Linked DNA regions of Homo sapiens: regions 1 and 2 are each linked to region 3. Evidence: fine-mapped expression QTL. A gene starts in region 3. Each other region holds a variant in brackets. All regions are shown on one strand. Distances are between the middles of the regions. Region 1 overlaps SNX6 (sorting nexin 6). Region 2 overlaps SNX6 (sorting nexin 6). Region 3 holds the start of EAPP (E2F associated phosphoprotein).

The links. PIP is the estimated chance that this variant, and not a neighbour inherited with it, causes the effect.
Region 1: its variant is the best candidate, but not a certain one, in a credible set for the expression of EAPP in whole blood (TOPMed, PIP 0.60).
Region 2: its variant is the best candidate, but not a certain one, in a credible set for the expression of EAPP in whole blood (INTERVAL, PIP 0.86).

Annotation. Positions count from the first base shown.
Region 1 is chr14:34,622,678-34,627,677 of GRCh38, forward strand. All of the region lies in intron 2 of SNX6 (sorting nexin 6), which reads right to left. Among named protein-coding and RNA genes, the nearest start is that of SNX6, 5.0 kb to the right of the region's middle. RefSeq lists a silencer at 886-1,180. The variant C/T (reference allele first, on the strand shown) is at 2,940.
Region 2 is chr14:34,590,206-34,595,205 of GRCh38, forward strand. SNX6 (sorting nexin 6) reads right to left here. Exons shown (of 14, transcript NM_152233.4): 8 at 2,840-2,945. Among named protein-coding and RNA genes, the nearest start is that of SNX6, 37 kb to the right of the region's middle. The variant C/T (reference allele first, on the strand shown) is at 2,901.
Region 3 is chr14:34,536,855-34,542,252 of GRCh38, forward strand. EAPP (E2F associated phosphoprotein) reads right to left here and starts at 2,847. Exons shown (of 6, transcript NM_018453.4): 1 at 2,701-2,847. The coding sequence starts at 2,774. LOC105370447 (a long non-coding RNA gene) reads left to right here and starts at 2,895. Exons shown (of 2, transcript XR_943739.1): 1 at 2,895-2,930; 2 at 3,332-4,852. It overlaps LOC112268123 (a long non-coding RNA gene), which reads right to left. Exons shown (of 2, transcript XR_002957583.1): 2 at 4,380-5,135. RefSeq lists silencers at 689-983, 2,925-3,024 and enhancers at 2,050-2,974, 2,625-2,784.

The DNA of each region.
Region 1 (5,000 bases), 86 kb after region 3:
CAGTAAGAACAAGTGCTCTAGGAGGAACCAAATTACCAACACATGCCATCCTCCCTGTTGGAAAGCAGACCAATAGCACAGTGGTTAAGAGCCAGGCCCTAGAGCTAGATTGCCTATTTGACCACAGCTCCTACCGGCTGTATGACCTTGGGCAAGTTATTTAATGTCTCTGCAACTCAGTTTTCCTTTCCCAAATAGGAATAACAGTAGGTGTATTTCATAGGGATTTGAGAATTGAGTTTATATGGAAAGTCCCTGACATGCAGTGAATGCATGTAAGTGTGTAACTATCATTATGTCTTTACTACTACCCCTTCCCCTAAAGTTGAACACTTTTACTTTGTACTCCCATACACTTCATTGCAAGGGATTATAACTCTATCTCCTTCACTACACTGTGATGGTCTCAGGGCAGGAACTTTGTCTTATTGATCTTTTTAATCCTCAGCCAACATAATATATGTCACATTTTTATGTGAAGTAACTATCAATAAATGTGGCATGTGTTTAAGCTAAAAAGTGTGCAGGTGCAAAACAAAATGCAAGCATCTGGGCCAAATTCAAGTTGAATTTGAAGCGAAAGAAAAGGTGAGGGGGAAAAAAAACACTGAAATGCATGCATAAAACAGACAGTCAAGTGTAGACGTACTTGGGCAATGGGGAGTAGACTAGAATATGGGGGAGGGGATATTGAGAAATGAAGCCAGTCAGAAAAGGTTATGAACAGAGTTGAATGTTAGCCTAAGGAGTTTGGACCTTACCCCCCAAAAAAAGGGGTCCAAGGAAGTCCTTTTCACTAACGTGCTATATGGTTTAATCATTTTAGTAATATAAGTAATTTGACGACTGAATTGGAAAGTAGAAAGACTAAAGACAGAGACTAAGGAGAGGTACTGCTACTATCCAAGCAGGAAGAAGCAAGGAGCTTAAATGGAACCAAGCACATGAAAGATGGGATAAACAACATTTCCAAGGTGAAATTAACTGGCCTCAATGACTGTTCTGATATAAAGATGAAGGATATGACTCAGAGGTTTCTTGCCGGCACAACTGGAAAGTGATGCTATTAATGAAGATAAGGAATACAAAGGTAGGAGCAAGGCTACGAGTACAGGAGAACAAGTAGTTACTCCACCTAAAGTAATTCTTGAAAACAATAAACATATTATTTAGAACTGAAATCAAGTGCAAAGAGAATCATGCCATCACTCTGGCATGCACTGTTCTTATTTAACAAGCACATCAGAAAAAAAATGTGTCCAATTCAAAGGGCTCATTTGTGTACTAAATAATATGTTACTGTCCTTTATTTGGGGGAGGAAAAACCTATTATATAGAGGTAGGGCTAAAGAGATGAAAATGTGGCCAATATTTTTCAACACTATGTATTCTTGAAGCCTGCTTTTTAAATTTCTCACAAAACAATATTTTCCTTTTTTTTTGAGACAGTTTCGCTCTTGTCGCCCAGGCTGGAGTGCAATGGCACAGTCTCGGCTCACTGCAACCTCTGCCTCCTGGGTTCAAGTGATTTTCCTGCCTCAGCCTCCCAAGTAGCTGGGATTACAGGCACCAGCCATCACGCCCGGCTAATTTTTGTATTTTTAGTAGAGATGGGGTTTCACCATGTGGGCCAGGCAGGTCTTTAACTCCTGACCTCAGGTGATCTGCCCATCTCGGCCTCGCAAAGTGCTGGGATTACATGCATGAGACACTGCGCCTGGCCAAAACAATGTTTTCTTAGGGCACTAAGATTCTGTTCTAATCGAAATATCATGATGAAAATGTACAGCTGCTTAAAGATTTATTTTAAAACACTGACTTTAATTTTGCTTACTTGTAGCTGGACGCTGTGGCTCACACCTGTAATCCCAGCACTTTGGGAGGCTGAGGAGGGTGGATCATGAAGTCAAGAGATCAAGACCATCCTGGCCAACATGGTGAAACCTCGTCTCTACTAAAAATACAAAAATTAGCTGGGCGTGGTGGCGTGCACCTGTAGTCCCAGCTACTCAGGAGGCTGAGGCAGGAGAATAGCTTGAACTTGGGAGCCAGAGGTTGCAGTGAGTCAAGGTCGCACCACTGCACTCCAGCCTAGCGACAGAGCAAGACTCCGTCTAGGAAAAAAAAAAAAATTTTTTTTGCTTACTTGCTGCTTTACATGAAATGCTAGTTATTATTTTTGAATGTGCTGTCCCCTTTGCAACTTGTATCAATATGTACTTCATGCTTTTTCTGTCAAAATTCCCCTTTCTTTTCGAGACAGAGTCTCGCACTGTTGCCCAGGCTGGAGTGCAATGGCACGCTCTCAGCTCACTGCAACCTCCGCCTCCTGGGTTCCAGTGATTCTCCCGCCTCAGCCTCCCGAGTAGGTGGGATTACAGGTGCCCGCCACCATGCCCAGCTAATTTTCTGTATTTTTAGCAGGGACAGGGTTTCACTATGTTGGTCAGGCTGGTCTCGAACTCCCGACCTCGTGATCCACCCACCTCTGCCTCCCAAAGTGTTGGGATTATAGGAGTGAGCCACTGTGACCAGCCAAGACTCCCTTTCTTAAAAGGCTCAACAAGATGATCTAAACTAAAAATGCAATGCCTAAAAGTTCTAATTATGGTAATCTATTTCTATCAGGACAAACACAATGTAAGGAAATTTAAACAGGCCAGATATTTCTATTCCTAAAATGAGGAAATAGCAGGATAACTTTCTGCAGCAGTAATCAAATTTCAGTGCACAAACAGAAACTCCTTGGGTGCTGGTCAAAAAAGCAGTTATCGGCCGGGCGCGGTGGCTCACACCTGTAATCCCAGCACTTTGGGAGGCCGAGGCGGGCAGATCCCCTGTGGTCAGGAGTTTGAGACCAGCCTGGCCAACATGGTGTAACCCTGTCTCTACTAAAAATACAAAAAAATTAGCCAGGCCTGGTGGCGGGCACCTATAAT[C/T]CCAGCTACTCAGGAGGCTGAGACAGGAGAATCACCTTAACCCGGGAGGTGGAGGTTGCAGTGAGCCAAGATTGCCACTGCACCCCAGCGTGGGCAACAGAGCGAGACCCTGTCTCAAAAAAAATTTAAAAAAAAAATGCAGTTATCTGCCCATATGTAGAGGTGGGGCTGAAGAGATCAAAGTGTGACCAACAGTTTTCAATACTGTGTATTCCCTACCCTAAGAGATTCTGATTTAGTGAGGAGGTGACACCCAGAAACTTTCATTTTGATTTTCAAATGCACCAGGTAATTCTAATGCAAGTATTTCAAGGCCACTTTGAGAAACCTGTGCAGTGGCTCTGATATCAGAAATGTGTTTTAAAGTCCAGCTCTCCCATTTGTTGCTGTGTGACCTCAGACTACTAACTTAGTTTCTCTGAAGTTCGGATTTCTCATTAGAAAAAGGGGGATACTAAAGGCTTTAGAGGGATGATGAAATATAATGAAATATAAATATAATGAAACAATGATTATGCTGTGCCCACCTATAATTTTATAATTATTATGATTCACCCAGTTCCACGGGACAAAAATAAGGAAGAACTGGGTAAGTGTATATATCCATCCTGATGTTCTAAAAGCATTCTAATTCAGGTTTTTTTCCATTTCCATATTAAAATTTTCATCTACAGGATTCTATAAGAACATCACAGTCAGGAGTGCTCTTTTGTCTTCCTCTCCCTTTAATTTTGTAATACATGAAAAAGTCTCTGGGGCCAGGCACGGTGGCTCACGCCTGTAATTCCAGCACTTTGGGAGGCCGAGGCAGGCAGATCACAACGTCAGGAGATCTAGACCATCCTGGCTAACAAGGTGAAACCCCGCCTCTACTAAAAAAAAAAAAAAATGCAAAAAATTAGCCGGGCACGGTCGCGCACTCCTGTAGTCCCAGCTACTCAGGAGGCTAAGGCAGGAGAATGGCATAGCATGAACCCAGGAGGCAGAGCTTGCAGCGAGCTGAGATCACGCCACTGCACTCCAGCCTGGGCAACAGAGCGAGACTCCATTTCAAAAAAAAAAAAAGAGAAAGTTTCTGGACAAATTACTTAAGGGCTTCCAGTTTCATGAGCAAATCTTTCTGAAGGCATAAAGCCATGAACACAAATATTCACCAAAAAATACTTTTCACAACATCAACATACTCAAAAATTAGTATTTTTACTGAACATTATTAAGATCCTCCAAGAAAGCAAATCCTGTTTGCTTGTGCTAGTAGACACCAAAAATAGGACATAAAGTTATCTAAAGGTCATATGCTTTATATTTAGAATAATTAGTTTAATTGTGCTATAATCAACTCCTCATACTTCATTAAGTAACTCTGCTAGTTTCCGCTATTTTAAAACCCGAAATACAATTTTAAAAATTTTTTTAGAGACAGGACCTCACTCTGTCACCCTGGCTCTCTCAAGCCATAGCTCATTGTTCTCAAGCTCTCAGCCTCTCAAATAGCTAGGACTACAGGTATATACCACCAAGCTTGCCTAAGTTTAAAAAAAAATTGTTGGCCAGGCGCGGTGGCTCACGCCTGTAATCCCAGCACTTTGGGAGGCAGAGGCGGGCGGATCACGAGGTCAGGAGATCGAGACCATCCTGGCTAACACGGTGAAACCCCGTCTCTACTAAAAATACAAAAAAATTAGCCAGGTGCGGTGGCGGGCGCCTGTAGTCCCAGCTACTCAGGAGGCTGAGGCAGGACAATGGCGTGAATCCGGGAGGCGGAGCTTGCAGTGAGCCAAGATAGCACCACTGCAGTCGGGCCTTCGGCCTGGGCGAAAGAGCGAGACTCCGTTTCAAAAAAAAAAAAAATTGTTTTTTCTTTTTTTTCTTTTTTTGAGATGGAGTTTTGCTCTTGTTGCCCAGGCTGGAGTGCAATGGTGCAATCTCAGCTCACTGCAACCTCCACCTCCCAGGTTCCAGTGAATGAATCCAGTGATTCTCCTGCCTCAGCCTCTGAAGTAACTGGAATTACAGGCATGCGCCACCATGCCCAGCTAATTTTTGTATTTTTAGTAGAGA
Region 2 (5,000 bases), 53 kb after region 3:
ATTACGAGGTGAGGAGATTGAAACCATCCTGGCTAACACAGTGAAACCCTGTCACTACTAAAAATACAAAAAATTAGCCGGGCGTGGTGGCGGGCACCTGTAGTCCCAGGTTCTCGGGAGGCTGAGGCAGGAGAATGGCGTAAACCCAGGAGGTGGAGCTTGCAGTGAGCCAAGATTCCGCCACTGCACTCCAGCAGCCTGGGCGACAGAGCAAGACTTCGTCTCAAAAAAAAAAAAAAAGAATAAAGCTGAAGGAAGAAGGACACAAGAAAAGATGTTGAACCTCAACAGTCATTAGGACAATACAAATCTAAACCACACTGAGTTACCACCACTGACCTACTTGAATAAAGTTAAAAAGACTTCAAATTCCACTGGGGAAAAAAAAAAGACTGACTATCCTTGTTGGCAAAGATGTGGAGCAACTGGAACTCTCATGCCCTGCTCGTGGGAATGCAAAATGGTACAACCATTGTGGAAAAAAAAATTGGTAGTTTCTTAAAAAGTTAAATATTCATTTACCACATGACTCAGGCATTCTACTTCTAGGTATTACCCAAGAGAAAGAAAGCATGTCCGTACAAAAAGTTATATAGAAATGGCTCACATAAATTGTATCTGTAATAGCCAAAGCTAGAAATAAATAATTGTTGTATATCCATTCAATGGAACACTACTTAGCAACAAAAAGAAATGAACTATCGATATACACAACAACTTGGATGAATCTCAAAATAGTTTTTTGAGTTTCAAAGCCAGACAATAAAGAATACATACTGTATGATTCAATTTATATAAAATACTAAAAAATACAAACTAATCTATAGTGACAGAAAGCAGATCAGTGGCTGCCTGGGGATAGGGCAGGAGGGAGAGATTTCAAAGGGCCACAAGAAAACTTTGGGGGTGATGTGTGTGTTCATTATTTTGATTGTGGTAAGGATTTCACACATGCCAAAACTTACCAAATTGTACACTTTGATTACTGCAGCTTACTGATATCAATTACACTCAACAAAGCTGTTAAAAAAAAAACCCTCACTGGTCTATTTTGCACTTTGAGTGGTTCTTTTACATATATGATTTTGTAGCATTATGCACTTGGCCGTTTAGAAAACATTGGTCCAATGAATTATGCAGATGTTCTAAGTGGTGACACAATTCAATGTACAATTTTTTAAAAAATCACATTCACTAGTATCATCATCAATCTCTATATGGGTCTTTATTGGTCTATCTAGCCGGGCACGGTGGCAGGCGCCTGTAATCCCAGCTACTTGGGAGGCTGAGGCAGGAGAATTGCTTGAACCTGGCAATGGCAGTGGCAGAGGCTGCAGTGAGACGAGATCGTACCATTGCACTCCAGCCTGGGCAACAGAGACTCCGCCTCAAAAAAAAAAATTGCAAGTGCATGGCAGGAAAGAACATACAGACTACCAGTCCAGTATCTATTGGGAAGTAAGCTCATGGTCAGAGAGATAAAGTTTTCCAAAATTCGAATTATTGCTTGAAGCTTGACTTATCATTGGCAACAAATACTACCTTTGTTTTCCTTGAAATAACTGATGGATTTTTGGCCAGGTTCCTCTAATTTAAATAATTAGTTGATTTTTGAGAAAACATTTGCCAAATATTCATAAACAGTTTATCAGTCATTCTCTAAAGTAAAAGTAGTGTTCTACGAAAAAATTAGCTAGTTCAATCACAACTCTATCACTAAAATGCTTTTCTAGAGAACCATCATACTTGAGTATGTAGCCAAAGTGCTTTATGCATACCTCCTATTTCATCACTCAGAATATTTAAAAATGTATACCCAAGGGTAGAGATTACAATCAATTTTTACTGTTTCATCAAGGGCATTCTTAAGTGAAAGTCACATGTCTTAAAAATTGCAAGTGGCCAGGTGCGGTGGCTCACGCCTGTAATCCCTGCACTTTGGAAGGCCAAGGCGGGTGGATCATGAGGTCAGGAGTTCAAGACCATCCTGGCCAAGACTGTGAAACCCCATCTCTACTAAAAATACAAAAATTAGCCAGGCGCGGTGGCAGGTGCCTGTAATCCCAGCTACTTGGGAGGCTGAGGCAGGAGAACTGCTTGAACTTGGGCGGCTGAGGTTGTTGCAGTGAGCTGAGATTGCACCGCTGCACTCCAGCCTGGGCGATAGAGACTCTGTCTCAAAGAAAAAAAAAAGAGCAAGTGCATGGCCGGAAAGAATATAGAGACTACTCGTCCAGTTTGTTGCCACTGACTTGATTTGTATGTAATTACGCAGCAGCAACTTTATCCATCATCGGTGTAAATGTCAACATGGTGAAAAAGGCAAAAACTATCACAGTATCATTATAAAAATAGTTGTTGTTTTGTTGCTGTCTAGACAGTCTCACTCTGTCACCCAGACTGAAGTATGGTGGTACGATCCATCACAGCTCACTGCAGCCTCAACCTCCCAGGCCCAAGGCATCCTCCCACCTTAGCTTTCCTAGTAGCTGGGACCACAGCCATGCGGCACCACGTCTGGCTAATTTTATTTTTTATATCAGGCTGGTGCAATACAAACAGGATCTTACTCTGTTGCTCAGGCTGGTCTTGAATTCCTGGGCTCAAGTGATATTCCCGCTTCAGCCTCCAAAAGTGTCGTGATCACAGGCGTGAGCCACTGTGCCCAGCTGAAAATAGTTTTGACCTCACAGGCTCACTATAAAAGGGCCATGGAGCCTAGGCTCCAACAGACCAGTTTGAGAACTACTGCTCTATATTAAGACTTTTTCAAACTATAATATGAACTTTATAATTATTCCATTAAAAGATATAAGCTTTAGCCACAGAAAAATCTTACTTTTGTGGGATCTTGTCATTCTATCAGATTTAGCAGATGCATCCTTAACTCGGTTATGATA[C/T]TCCAAAAGAAATGTTCGTTCGTGCTCAAAGAAATCATCTACATCCTATAAGATCAAAAGAAAATATAAACTTTTTTCACTTATTTGCTTTAGTTTTATATGTAAATAACTATCATTATAAATATAAAAGATCATCAGTAAAATAGCATACCTATCCTCAGTCAGATGTTATTATACTAATTTCACCAACAAGACTTTAATAGACATGCATTTCTATCTATCAAGTAAGAAATCTTCTATGACTTTGCAACTGAAGGCTTAGTGCTCCCCATATAGGTCCAAGTTCACGTGCTGTACTCTTTTTTTTTTTTTGAGATGGAGTCTCACTCTGTCACCTAGGCTGGAGTGCAGTGGCGTGATCTTGGTTCACTGCAACCTCTGCCTCCCGGGTTCAAGCGATTCTCCTGCCTCAGCGTCCCAATAGCTGGGACTACAGGTGCACACCACCACACCCAGCTAATTTCTTTTCTTTTTTTTTTTTTTTTTAGGCAAAGTCTCGCTCTGTCACCAGGCTGGAGTGCAGTGGCGCGATCTTGGCTCACTGCAACCTCAGCCTCCTGGGTTCAAGTGATTCTCCTGCCTCAGCCTCCTGAGTAGCTGAGACTACAGGCAAGCGCCACCACGCCCAGCTAATTTTTTTTTTTTTGTATTTTTAGTAGAGACAGGGTTTCACCACATTGGTCATGCTGGTCTCGAACTCCTCACCTCATGATCCGCCCACCTCGGCCTCCCAAAGTGCTGGAATTACAGATGTGACCCACCACGCCCAGCCTAATTTTTGTATTTTTTTAGTAGAGACAGGGTTTCGCCATGTTGGCCAGGCTGGTCTCAAGTTTCTGACCTCAAGTGATCCGCGCGCCTCGGCCTCCCAACGTGCTAAAGTGCTGGGATTACAGGCATGAGCCACCGCACTTGGCCTCACATATTGTACTCTGAAACATGTTCTTATTTGTGATCTGCCTCTACAATTTTGCTCTTCAATAAACATATTATTGCCAGCAGAAGTGATCAATTCCTTTTAAGGAAAAAGAAAACAGTTCTGGTGGACAGAAGTGAAAATCTATTTTTCTTGGCCTGTTATACATTCTACTGGCCATTCCTGAAGGCTGCCTAGCCTTAGTCATTAAGGCCCTTTCTGACTGCACTGAGGAACCTGACCAAACTATCTGAGAGCAACAATGTGATTAACCACTGTCTTCAACCTTTTTTTTTTTTTTGAAACAAAGCTAGATATACATTAAAAATAAAAATTATTATTATTATCTTCAGACAGAGTCTTGCTTTGTAATCCAGGCTGGACTGCAGTGGTGCAAACATGGCTCACTGCAGCCTCAACCTCCCTGGCTCAAGCAATCCTCCTGATTCAGCATCCCAAGTAGCTGGGACTACAGGCGCATGCCACAACGCCAAGCTAATTTTTGTATTTTTTATAGAGACAGGGTTTTGTCATGTTGTCATGTTGCCCAGGCTGGTCTTAAACTCCTGAGTTCAAGTGACCCACCTGCCTCAGCCTCCCAAAGTGTTAGGATTACAGGAGTGAGCCACTGCACCTGGCACAAAAATAAAATTAATAGTATTTTACCCCCTTCTACATTACCAATCATTAAATGAAAAAGCATCTGCTGACAGGATATAATTGGAGACCCATATCAACAGAACACAAGCAGCAAGAGTCAGTACTGACAAAATGTGACTGAAATCTGTAATTCAGCTGGATACAGTGGCTCACACCTGTAATCCCAGCACTTTGGGGAGGCCGAGGTGGGCAGATCACTTGAGCCCAGGAGTTCAGCCTGGGCAACATGGCAAAACTCTGTCTCTACAAAAAATACAAAAATTAGCTGGGTGTGATGGCACGTACCTATAGTTCCAGCTACTTGGGAGGTTGAAGTGGGAGGATCGCCTGAGCCTGGGAGGCAGAGGTTGCAGTGAGCCGAGATTGGGGCACTGCACAGCAGCCTAAGGCAACAGAGCAAGACCCTGTCTCAAAATGCAAAATAAAATAAAAAATAAATATTAAAATAAAATTCATAATTCATAATATGTAACAGTTCCCTCTCTCTCTTTCGCCCAAGCTGGAGTGCAATGGCACAATCTTGG
Region 3 (5,398 bases):
AGGATTCAGAATCCGTCTCAAAAAATACATAGATAGATATATAGATAGATAGATATCCTGGTTGTGATACTGCACTATAGTTTTGTAGTATGTTAACACTGGAGGAAACTGGGGAAAGAGTACACAGGATCTCTCTGTATTATTTCTTTTTTTTTTATTATTTTTTATTTTTTGAGATGGGGGTCTCCCTGTGTTGCCCAGGCTGGAGTGCAATGGTGCCATCTTGGCTCACTGAAACTTCCGCCTCCCAGGCTCAAGCCAACCAACCGCCTCACCCTCCTGAGTAGCTGGGACCACAGATATGCACCACCATACCAGCTAATTTTTTGTATTTTCAGTAAAGACATGATTTCATCATGTTGCTCAGGCTGGTCTTGAACTCTTGAGCTCAAGTGATTCTCCTGCCTTGGCCTTCCAAAGTGCTGGGATTACAGATGTGAGCCACTGCACCAGACCTGTATTATTTCTTATAACTGAATGTGAATCTACGAAAACTTCAAAATAAAATGTTTAATTTTTAAAAACTGAATCACAAAGTGAGAGCTATTTTTTCTACAAATTTTCTTCAATCCTTGTCATTATCTCAACCAAAGTCTCAGTTTTCAGCACTGCTGAGAAAGGCAGTCATACATCATGGACCCTAGATATGCAAGTTAAGTATGCCAAGAATGCAAGGTTCTGACCACTGTTCACTCCAGCCATTTCTCAGGATTGTGTTTGCAGCGAACAACAACCTTGAGGAATGAGATAATGTCTCCTTCCAGGACAAAGAGCAGATGTATTTACTGTCTTCTATGAAAGAGGTGGATTCTCCAAGCTCAAGTAGTCTTTAGCCACGATGCCAACCCACTGAATGTGCAGCATTCTTCTAGGACCCTCAGCGTAATACCTGTAGGGTTGACAAGCAAGAGCAAGCCACACAAACATGATGCTCATGCTGCTTGCTGTGCTATGTGTAGTCTTATCTTTGACCCAGGAGTCTCATGTCTTCGGTCAGCTACCGTGAAACAGTTAACAGGCTACAATGTATTAGTTTATAAACAGTGTAAAATTAAATACTGACAGACACCTCTCTAACACTAATCTCCCTTTTTAAAATAATAACCATTTGGCTCAGAGCCTACAACAGGCAATACTGTCTGATAACATTGTTTTGTTTTTATAATATTTATCTTTACAGTTACCTTACCAGTGGCAACTGTCACAGAATTATAAAGCTTCCTTAAAAAAATGATACAACAGTCCTGGCTCCGTGGCTCAGGCCTGTAATCCTAGCACTTTGGGAGCCCGACGCAGGCAGATTGCCTAAGGTCAGGAGTTCAAGACCAGCCTGGCCAACGTGGTGAAAACCCATCTCTACGAAAAATACAAAAAATAAGCCAGGTGTGGTAGCGCATGCCTGTAATCCCAGCTACCCAGGAGGCTGAGGCAGGAGAATTGCTGGAACCCAGGAGGTGGAGGCTACAGTGAGCCAAGATTGCACCAGTGCACTCCAGCCTGGCTGACAGAGTGAGACTCTGTCTCAAAATAAATAAATAAATAAATAAATAATTGAGACATACATATATACATACCTCCTTTCACAGACAGGACCCATTAACTGAAACTCTTTTTCACAGGGAATCCTGGTATCTATCCTCACTCCCAACAAAAGAAATCTTAACAGCAGTCTGATTTCCCATGCATCCAATGTCTCCCCATGACAATATGAGGAAACATTGTTCTTTTGATTTTTTTTTTTTTTAAGAAATGAGGTCTCACTATGTTGCCCAGGCTGTTCCTTTACTACCAGGCTTAAGAGATTCTCTCGCCTCAGACTCCCAAAGTCCTGGGATTACAGGCATGGGCCACCACACCCAGCCAAAGTTGTTAATGAAAGCATGGCTTTACAGAAAGCTTCTTTAGGCAGAATGAATGTTTTAAAGTTTAAGAATAGGATCTGCTGACAGCTTAAGAAATAACTAAATTTGTGTGGAAATATCTCGGCAAAACAGCTTCAAGTTTCCCTGGTAGAATAAAGCCCACCCTTCTGGAAATCCCACGAACCTTCTTCTGTGCCTATCTCAGGTCAATATTCTCTACAATGCTCTGCCAAGAAATATATACTTTATCTTATTACCCTTATTATACTATAAGCCTCTGGAAGACAAGGACCTTATGATTTATCTCTGTAGCTCAGAGCGAGCATACAACAGTCCCTGTCAAAAAATAAAAATAAAAAAGGCTGTTCAATATTCCCTTATTTCTGTTTATGGCAGTTTAGTCTTCAAGATGGACACTTCACATTAAGTCCTGTGAGCCTCACAACAAACATAGTGTGTTATACTATGTTATATAGGTTATACAATTATGTTATTATAGTTCAATTTTACAGGTGAGTAATCGAGGATAACTGACTTGCCTTCCGTCACTCTGCTACTAAGGTGTAGAGACAGGTTTCGATCTCATTGCTTTTGAAGATTTACACGCGGTCCCCCGTGATTCCGGAATATCCCTCTTCCTACAGGCGACATCGGCACCGCCTCCCCCCGGGACTGCGCGACCCCATCAGGAAAGCCCTTTGGCTTCGCACAAGTAACAGGCACGACAGGCTCCCGAGCCGCTAGGGTCTGCGTAGGCTCGGCAGGCGCAACGAATGGAGGCGACCAAAGCCAGGCCTCGACCCAAATCCTCGGGGGCCAGGGTGGGGCGGGAGCCCACCTGCTCAAAGCCGGCTCCTCGTCGCTAGGCTCTTCAACCGCGTAGGGGTCGTAGTCATCCGGAAGCCGGTTCATGGTGGCCTGCAGCGGCCTACACCGTCCACAAGCAATTTGCAGCGTCTCTGTTTACACTGCAAGTCCAGTCCCTAAAGCGCCCCTGACGCCACTTCCGCCTGAACGTCCCAGTCCCCCTTGCGCGCCCGCGCAGACCGACAGCACCGAGGGAGGCAGGTAGAAGGCGGGGAAGGGGCGGAGCAGGAGCGAAAAGGGGCGGGGACGGGACGGGGGCGGGTCTTAATCCCACCATTTTTGTTTTGTTTTGTTTTTTGGAGACGGAGTTTCGCTCTTGTTGCCCAGGCTGGAGTGCAATGGCGCGATCTCGGCTCACCGCAACCTCCGCCTCCCAGGTTCAAGCAATTCTCCTACCGCAGCCTCCCGAGTAGCTGGGATTACAGGCATACACCACCACGCCCGGCTAATTTTGTATTTTTAGTAGAGACGGGGGTTTCTCCATGTTGAGGCTGGTCTCGAACTCCGGACCTCAGGTGATCCGCCCACCTCGACCTTCCAAAATGCTGGGATTACAGGCGTGAGCCACCGCTCCCGGCCAATCCCACCATTTTCTTCCGCAGCTTCTGCTTACAGGAAAATAGCAGCTACCTTGTCACCAAAAATAATAATGATGGGCACCCTCATAAGTGACAGTCTCTGAGGTGAACATGCTACATGCAGCGTCTCATCACCTACGAAGCAGGAATCTAGACGCTGAGGGACACACAGCCCGAAATCCAATAAGTCCTCAGACACCAGCACCCACATCCCTCCAACCTCGCCTCTAACCCTTATGCCTTCCACACCATGAGGCTCTCAACCTCTCCTTCACACTGTTCACTCCTCAGTCTGACTGCGGCCTCAACAATCTACGAAAAGTTATCTTTTCTCGTCATCTTCCCAGTCCCCACTTTTGCTCAGCCCTCAACTGATCCCACTCGATACCTGAGGAGAACAGGCAGATGACAGCCACTTGAGCTCCATCGGGAGACTGTTTCTAACCCTGTTTCTGAACCAGGAACTCGGGTTCCTGCCTCCTACCGAGACACTGTGGCACTCTCTAAAATGTGGAGTAGCTGTAATAAATCTACTCCTGTATTATGCTTTACAGTGCAGGTCTTAGTTTTTCTTTTTTCTCATTTCTTTTGAAATGGCATCTCGAACAAAGTCCACCAATCCCTTTACAAAAGAATGAACTGCTCCTCTGTGTGTACTTCATAGAAGGTGGAATCGGACAGAAGCAGGTTAGTGACAGTTATTCCTGAAATACAGGAGCAGAGTACAGTCTGTTGTGGTTTCCCGGATTCCGCGCCTAGCTCAGCCAATTAAGCATGAGACATAGGCCATTGAGCCACTTAGTAGTTATGCGAGTGGATAGATTGGTATGTAGAGGGAAAGAGGTCTGCTGTAAAGAACAACACTTGTTTGTCTGTGGGGAAAGAAAAGCAGAATACTTGAGATGAAAGTTGGCATACAAATAGGATACTATCGCCAGTAGTTATATTACAAACATTATCGGCCTTTCTAGTGTGAATGAACATTAGACACATTATTGTCATTCCTAGTTTAAAGTTAAGGTTGCGTGGTTGGATTTTTCCACTATCTTTTTCTAATTTTTCTACCATTTGGAGACCGTAGGCATTTGGGCCTGTCACCCCTTGGATGGGTTCCTAGTTTGTTTACATTTTCCTGAACCCTCCTGAGCGCCCGTTCTTGGTCTAATCCCCAGTCGTGATGATTCCACACTTCCTCAGCCGCATGTTGTCTTGCCTCATTCATGAGCTGGTCAGCGTTTCGTCTCTTTAACTGACATGTTCCCCAGTGCTGTTTGAACTGTTGAGTTTCCGTTGCTGGCTGAGTGCGTTTTGTCCTTCACGTAACCTTCGCTGGTAAAAATAAGCCCATGTGATGTCCACCAGTGGATGAATGCTGGACCGAGAGCCCTAGCTTCTGGATCCAGGTCTAGGCCCTTCATCTGCTGCTCTGTGGCCCAGGGCAGGTTTGCTTGACCTCTGCCTCAGTTCTCGACTCTAAAGGACATACTGACCTACCTCACAGGGGTGTTGTGAGGATTAATAAATGTTGGTACTCTGCTTTGGAAATGTGAAAATGCTGTGTAAATGTTAAGAAATACTAAGTATAGGGCCAGAAGCTATACAGTGTTTCACTTAACCGTTTGCCATTCTGTATTTACCAAGGTGGTCTTTTCTGGGGAAGGAAGTAGAGTGGAAGGTGCATCCCTTGGCCCCTGGTTTACATTATTAGGGTGCTTATTGTAGGAATGCACTCTAAAAAGTGGGCGTAGAATGAAAGCAGCCGTCCAGTGGTCCTCCCTTTTCTGTAGTTTCACTTTTCTTGCTTCAAGTTACAGCAGTCACCTGAAATCTGAAAATACTAAATGAAAAACTCCAGAAACAATTTATGTCTTAAATGTTGTGCTGTTCTGAGTAGCGTGATGAAATCTGTTGCCGTCCTACCTGGAACATTGAGTCATGCCTCTGTCCAGTGTGTCCATGCTGTATACACTGTCCACCCATCAACCAACCACTAAGTAGCTGTCTTGGTTGTCAACATAACAGATCACAAGAAGATTGAGGTTGGGTGTGGTGGCTTACCCCTGTAATCCCAGCACTGTGGGGGTCCAAAGT